Linked DNA regions of Homo sapiens. The protein of the gene in region 2 purifies or fractionates together with the protein of the main gene of each other region. This does not show direct contact. Each region holds a gene or a part of one and is shown on either strand. Other genes may lie near its edges.

The links.
Region 1: the proteins of EBF2 (region 2) and SPRR3 purify together in Homo sapiens (affinity purification with mass spectrometry; one large-scale study listed by BioGRID and IntAct). This does not show direct contact.

The regions. Positions count from the first base shown.
Region 1 is NC_000001.11:153,000,437-153,004,359, forward strand, and holds SPRR3 (small proline-rich protein 3), read left to right. Parts: upstream 1-1,312; 5' UTR 1,313-1,357; intron 1,358-2,166; exon of another isoform or gene 2,167-2,250; intron 2,251-2,565; 5' UTR 2,566-2,584; coding exon 2,585-3,094; 3' UTR 3,095-3,420; downstream 3,421-3,923. UniProt on the Homo sapiens protein: Cross-linked envelope protein of keratinocytes.
Region 2 is NC_000008.11:25,860,406-25,863,919, reverse strand, and holds part of EBF2 (transcription factor COE2), read left to right. Parts: intron 1-1,122; coding exon 1,123-1,211; intron 1,212-2,545; coding exon 2,546-2,611; intron 2,612-2,693; coding exon 2,694-2,871; intron 2,872-3,514. UniProt on the Homo sapiens protein: Transcription factor that, in osteoblasts, activates the decoy receptor for RANKL, TNFRSF11B, which in turn regulates osteoclast differentiation. Acts in synergy with the Wnt-responsive LEF1/CTNNB1 pathway.

The DNA.
Region 1 (3,923 bases), on a different chromosome or scaffold from region 2:
GAGGGAAGGACATGGGTGTGGAAGGGAGGGTAAGCCTCTTCTCCTTCATGAATTATCAGCTCACACCTCTTCTCAGCTCACACCAGGAGGCCTGGCACAGGACAGTGAATCATGCCCAAGAAACTGCCTTGTGGCTTCCTGCCTTCCTCCCTCCCTCCCTATCTTTCCTCTTTTCTTTTCTCTTTTCTTTTCTTTTCCTTTCCTTCCCCTCCCCTTCCTTTCTTCCTTCCTTTCTTTCTTTCTTTCCTTCTCTCTCTCTCTCTTTCTTTCTTTCTTTCCTTTCTTCTTTATCTATCTCTGTTTCTTTCTCACTTCCTTTCTCCCTTCCATGAACCTACAGCTCTATTCAGGAGAACAATGACTGTCCATTGACTTAACACCCATGATAACCAGGCACTGTGTGACGCTGAAGTAGAACAAGGGGCTTTCAGAACCTGGTGGAAGGAGCTGGGCATCAGGTTCAAGGGAGTAACACAGTCGTGGAACATTGGGAAAGGAGGAGCTATTCACATGCCTGAGATGTAAGGATGTCTGGATTTTCCAAGGGCCGCGTCTAGTAAGAGAGTGTGTATTGAGGGCAACTCTGAGTTAGTGACTTGAGGTTCATCCTGTAGTGATCAGAGGAAATGGCTGGTGTATGAACCTAGGGAATCAGCACGCTCCTCTTCCTATGTCACTCCTGGAGAAGAAAGATACCACAAGAGGCAGGGTCTTCAGGGCTGAGCCACAATGTCACACAGATCCAGTCAATCCTGCCTGTCCATCTCAATGACATCTACTATCCCTGATCAACACGGCACCTTAAGGCGCCCTTCACAGTGAAAGCAACTTATTTCCAAAGCAGGCATTTTGCCTTCCATTGCTCCTCCCAGGTCCAAATCCAGTAAGAGACTGAAAATCAGATGATTCACTTATTCTGCACCATCCCCATGGCCTCGCAGAACCAGAAATGCCTATTGTTATTTCCATGTCCACTTCAACCATGAGGAAGCCCAATAGGACTAATCTGGCTAAAGATTAGGGCCCAGGCCAAGAGGCCTGGCTCGTTCTAGTCCTAGGAGCATGGTACTTCCTCCTAATTTAATCCATTGCCATTCAAGAAGACCTTTGCCCACAGCAACCACACCACAAAGGGTGGACAGTGAGTCAGGCCCAGGTGACATCACTGTCAGAGCTTAAGTGACAAAAAATGTTAAGCCAGAGATACTTATCACAAAAGCTGGAATGAAGTTAGAGCAGTCTTTTAAAAAATCCAATTTTCTTAAGGCAGGGCTCATTTTCTATATAAATACCAGCTAACAAGAGACTCTTCACCAGATCCCAGAGGCTGAACACCTCGACCTTCTCTGCACAGCAGGTGAGTCTCCGCATTAGGAACACCTTAATATTCTCCAATAGTTTCTTTATTTTGATTGAGATCTCTTTGCTATGCAATGAATATATTTATTTTAAATGCAATAACGACTTTTGTTTAAGGTGACCTTATACATATTTTGACTTTCCACTCAGATTACAGGTGTGGAACTTAGGATCAGAAAAGGGGAGTGATTTCTGTAAAGGCTTGCTAAGTTAGCAAGACAATATACCCACTTCAAGAGCACTCTCCTGTCAACATGTATTGAAAATTTTTAATATAGAAGGCACTACATTGGCAATTTTGATGATCAAAAGATAAGTTTTTCTTTATTGCATGAATGTATAATCCATTAGAAAACATATACTTGACTAAAATTTGCAAACATACAGCATGGGGAGTGATTAGCAGAGAGGGAAAGCAAGTATCATGCTGTGGCAAAACGAGGAAGGTGAGAGCATCAGGAAGGACAGCCATGAGAGGTGGGCATGTGTGGGGAGGCAGCGATGATGTGGAGAGCCTGCCAGAGAGCATGTGCAGCAGGCACAGTGTGAACAGAGGCTCCCAGGTGGATTGTGGGAGCCTTAGGGGGAAGTTTAGATAAGAGTTCTCCTGGGAGAACTATCGCACTCTATAAGGAGGACATGAGTGAGTAGATTCTAGACTGCTGACCTTAAAATCTTTCCAACTTATGGAAAAACTGAGGTGTCACATCAATCTTCAGCCAATGACACACAGCCAAGAGTGGTATTAAAAGTGATTTAATCAGGGAAGAGCAAGAAACATGCATTTCTTTTCACTCAATTCCTCAGATGATCCCTGAGCAGCTGAAGACCAGAAAAGCCACTAAGACTTTCTGCTTAATTCAGGAGCTTAGAGGATTCTTCAAAGAGTGTGTAAGCGAAAGCTTCAGAGTATATATTTGCATATTTGTATGTGTTTTCATGTTGTACGTAGGTTTTTAGATGTACCAGGAAGAAAAGAAGCATAAAGAAAGGCTCCATTTACACGATGTGGAAGAAATCAACTTTACCTTATTCTCTGGAAGATAAGTGGGGATCACCAAAGCATCCCATGATCTCAAATTCAGGGAAAAAGAAAGAAAAGAGAGGCTCTCAGTTCTGAAGGAGAATGAAATGACAGATATTTGTCATTAAACTGGGCTTCATTCCTACTTAATCAAAGCACTGAATTAGCTGTTTTGTCTCTAGGTCCAGCATCCTTTGAAGCATGAGTTCTTACCAGCAGAAGCAGACCTTTACCCCACCACCTCAGCTTCAACAGCAGCAGGTGAAACAACCCAGCCAGCCTCCACCTCAGGAAATATTTGTTCCCACAACCAAGGAGCCATGCCACTCAAAGGTTCCACAACCTGGAAACACAAAGATTCCAGAGCCAGGCTGTACCAAGGTCCCTGAGCCAGGCTGTACCAAGGTCCCTGAGCCAGGCTGTACCAAGGTCCCTGAGCCAGGTTGTACCAAGGTCCCTGAGCCAGGCTGTACCAAGGTCCCTGAGCCAGGTTGTACCAAGGTCCCTGAGCCAGGCTACACCAAGGTCCCTGAACCAGGCAGCATCAAGGTCCCTGACCAAGGCTTCATCAAGTTTCCTGAGCCAGGTGCCATCAAAGTTCCTGAGCAAGGATACACCAAAGTTCCTGTGCCAGGCTACACAAAGCTACCAGAGCCATGTCCTTCAACGGTCACTCCAGGCCCAGCTCAGCAGAAGACCAAGCAGAAGTAATTTGGTGCACAGACAAGCCCTTGAGAAGCCAACCACCAGATGCTGGACACCCTCTTCCCATCTGTTTCTGTGTCTTAATTGTCTGTAGACCTTGTAATCAGCACATTGTCACCCCAAGCCATAGTCTCTCTCTTATTTGTATCCTAAAAATACGTACTATAAAGCTTTTGTTCACACACACTCTGAAGAATCCTGTAAGCCCCTGAATTAAGCAGAAAGTCTTCATGGCTTTTCTGGTCTTCGGCTGCTCAGGGTTCATCTGAAGATTCGAATGAAAAGAAATGCATGTTTCCTGCTCTTCCCTCATTAAATTGCTTTTAATTCCAGTCTTGGCTGTGTGTGTCATTGGCAGAATCTTCCTCCTTCCTTGTTTCCCCATTGTGAGTCAGGACCTATAGACAGAGAGGAGTTGATGTAGAAGTCATCTATTTAACCCCAGTACTGTTTGTTTCTATGGGTGTATGGGGTTACAGTTGAGGTGTTCCTGGAATGGCAATGGGCCTGGTGTGATGTTGAATAGAAGTTGTCACTTTGGGCAGCCACAGGCTCTCCTCTTGCACTGGACTGAGTCATGCCTGACTCCAAGCCACCTGTTCCAAGACACCTCTGATCCTCAGTATCCTGACAACAAATCTCCTGTTTGTTCCAAGAAAACTTTACTCCTACATATTTTGACTGGACAGTCTATTTTTCTTCATTTGTTTTACCTTCTAGATACCCCACCACACACATACACACACACACACACGCACACACACACACAGAGTCATTCACAAAGAGAAACATTCATTTTAAATAGCCACACAGTCACATAATCATTCACACAAGC
Region 2 (3,514 bases):
TTAAGTGGATGAAAAGTAGGTTATGTAACAGTGTGAACGGTATGTCTCTGAATAATTTTAAGTATGTGTATAGGTTTCAATCTGGAAAGACATATGCAAAAAATGTTAATCCAGCTCATGTCTTAAGTGGGTTTATGGTAATTTTTTACTTCTATATTTAATGTTTGTAATAGTTTTTTACAAGAGGCATTGTTATGATAGAATAATAGCAACATATATATAAAAAATAAGATTAAAGAGGAAATAGACATTACTGTGTTTATTGCTGCATAACAGCAGTGCAGGTGATTATTTCATTCTTTGTATCTTTTTCTTTAATCATGTATTAATTTTAAAACCATGACATTTAAACAAGAAACTTTTAAAGAATAAATGAAAGGGAAGAAGGAGAAAGAATAAAAGCAGCATGCAGAAAACTCTTTAGAATAGTGGAAATGCTAAAGTATGCCATTCATTAATTCACTCATTCACTCACTCGTTTTATAATTACTGACACTAAGTGCCTTCTATGTGCCAGGCCCTGTCTTAACGGGAACATAGTGGTGAAATAAAATTTGTAGTATTCGTGGGGTGGGGGGCTGATAGTTACCAGACGTGGGTGTAATTAAATATAATTGAAAATTGTGGAAGCGTATTATGCATAAAGTGGGTTTTATGAGAATAAGCTCATAGAAGGTTTATATATGTATAAATATACATAAGAGACTGGTTAAGAAAAATATTTAGAAGAATATTTCATAGATATTTAGAAGAATAGACAGTGCAGTCCTACTTAAGAAAGAGATAAGAGAAAGGAAAATAATATAAAAGTAGTTTATTATCTTCATAAGAAATTGAGATATGGTTGCTTAATTTTTTATTTGATAGCAGAGAAGTTTATGTATACTTAAAGCAGAAATGATAATTATAATCTGAAATTTTGAAATGTTATTCTAATAGGAAACTATAAAAGTACTATAAATTCCAAATTTATATGTGAATTAACCAATGTCGATAGCAAAAACCCTAACTGATTACATCCATTATGCATCCAGAACCTTCTTATTACCTGTGGAAGAATTAATTAGAAGGTTTGCTTTATAGCCAGGATACCAACTCAGAAAGAGGACTTTTCTCTTTCAGCATTAAATGAACCCACCATAGACTATGGCTTCCAGAGACTGCAGAAGGTCATCCCTAGGCATCCTGGAGATCCTGAGAGATTAGCTAAGGTAATGTGCTTTGGAAATTGACATGTGAAGCCATTTGTGTAGAATTTCAGGAAACTTAGACAAATGCAGGCATTTACATCCCATTAAAATTAATTAGGCCTTGAAATTTGGCTAAGCTTTAGATACGAGATGCACATAAAATATCTGCTATGAAATATATTATGGTCTTATTTATTAATCTCTGAGGAAATATGAACATTTGAGCTGATTAAACAGATACACGACAGGAGTATTCAGTTTAAAAAACATGGCCAACTTTATGAAAATAAATAACTGCATAATTGGTTAAAAGTATAAGCTTCCACTCCTTTGTATTTAAATGTTTCTATTTAACCATAATTGCAAGGACTCATTAATCCACAATTAGTATTAATTATTGAGGGCCTACTATGTACGTAGGTATCTAATGAGGAGAAAAATGCTTCTGTATAAAATTTCTATGAAATACATCACTTTCAAGTGAACTTCCTTATGAAAATTACTTTATGAATTTGGCCCATGTTGTTAGCTTTCTTTAAAAAGTACATCAATTTATTAGTTGTCATTCAGCTGATGAGAAACTATTAAATTTTCACATTTATATTTGCACTTTAAACACACAAATTATAAAATGCCATATTCTCTTTTGCATACTGTGAATAAAATTTATGCACCAGAGTTGCTTCTACATCACACCTTTATTTTCCTCCTGGAAAAATCCCTAGCCCCACCATTAAATTAGATGATATCTGGAAAGTAGGTTAATAGCAATTTAAAAGGCTGTGTAAAACAGGAGGTGGAAAAGGCAAAATGAGAGGAAAGGGATTCGTGATTACTAATTCTCTGTGGTTAAAGTGTACAGGGGGAAATATTATTGAAAGAATTCATCTTTATTAGAATAAAATTTTGCAGCAGACGTTGCCAAGATAATTTCAGTACTCTGGACAACTCCTTGGCAAGCAGCTAAACTCAAATCCATCAATCATTTTAAGAATATTTGGTTAATTAGAGAACCAGATTTTTAAAACAGAATGGGCTGAAAGTAGCATTTAATAGAACTTCCATGACCTTAATAATTTTAATAAACTATACTCTCAATTGGGTTGTTTTTTGTTTTGGTAACACAATCATTTATAGAGCCATTTTATAGAGGTGAATTTCAGATAGATACGTATTTACAGAGAGATGTACATGTACAATTGTATTCTACCTGTCAAACCAAATATAGGACCTCTTGGCTAATTACTTACATTTTGGGAGGGATGTGTGGATTTCTCATTTTTGCCTATAATTTTCTTTTGTTTGCCATCTTGGATTTTGCCTTTGACAATATCCCATCCTCGCTTATTTTCCAGGAGATGCTGTTGAAAAGAGCTGCAGATCTAGTGGAAGCTCTTTATGGCACACCACACAATAACCAGGTGAGATACTGACATCCTATCCTTTATTGAGTTTTGCACTTTATGCTGGATAGAATGCTCACATTAACCTGTTGTTTTGTAGGACATCATTTTGAAGCGAGCCGCAGACATTGCTGAAGCTCTCTACAGCGTCCCCAGGAATCCCAGCCAGCTTCCAGCCCTCTCTAGCTCCCCAGCGCACAGTGGCATGATGGGAATCAACTCCTATGGCAGCCAGCTTGGGGTCAGCATCTCAGAGTCAACACAAGGAAATAATCAAGGTACCACCTTTCTTAGAGTCAAAATCCAAATATGTCTAATTTAAAAAGTTCTGCTGGAGTGGACAGAGTCAGAGGTTGGGTCATAATGGTCCAACAGAGTGTGTCCACAGATAGGCAATACAATCATAGATTGGGTTATTTCAAGATTATAGATGGTACTTTATTAGAGTTTGAGCTTCTTAGGTACCAGGTAGAATGTCTGGAAATATTTAAGGGGAAGATTGAGTATTACTACCAGGTTTGGTGGCTCACACCTGTAATCCCTGCACTTTGGGAGGCTGAGGCAGGTAGATTGCTTGAGCCCTGGAGTTTGAGACCAGCCTGGGCAACATGGTGAAAACCCATCTCTATAAAAAAATAGCCAGGTGTGGTGGGCAGATGTAGTCCCAACTACTTGGGAGGCTGAGGTGGGAGGATCACATGAGCCTGGGAAGTCGAGGCTGCAGTGAGCAGTGGGGTGCGCTGGCACACTGCAAATGAGCCGAGGCTGCCTGTGCAGTGTGACAGTGCACTCCAGCCTGGGCAACAGAGCGAGAACCTGTCTCAAAAAAAAAAAAAAAAGGATTGGGTATTATCAATTTAGAAGGGTTTGGGCTTATAGAAAATAGGTTTACAGGTATTAATTTAAAAGAAATTTATGCTT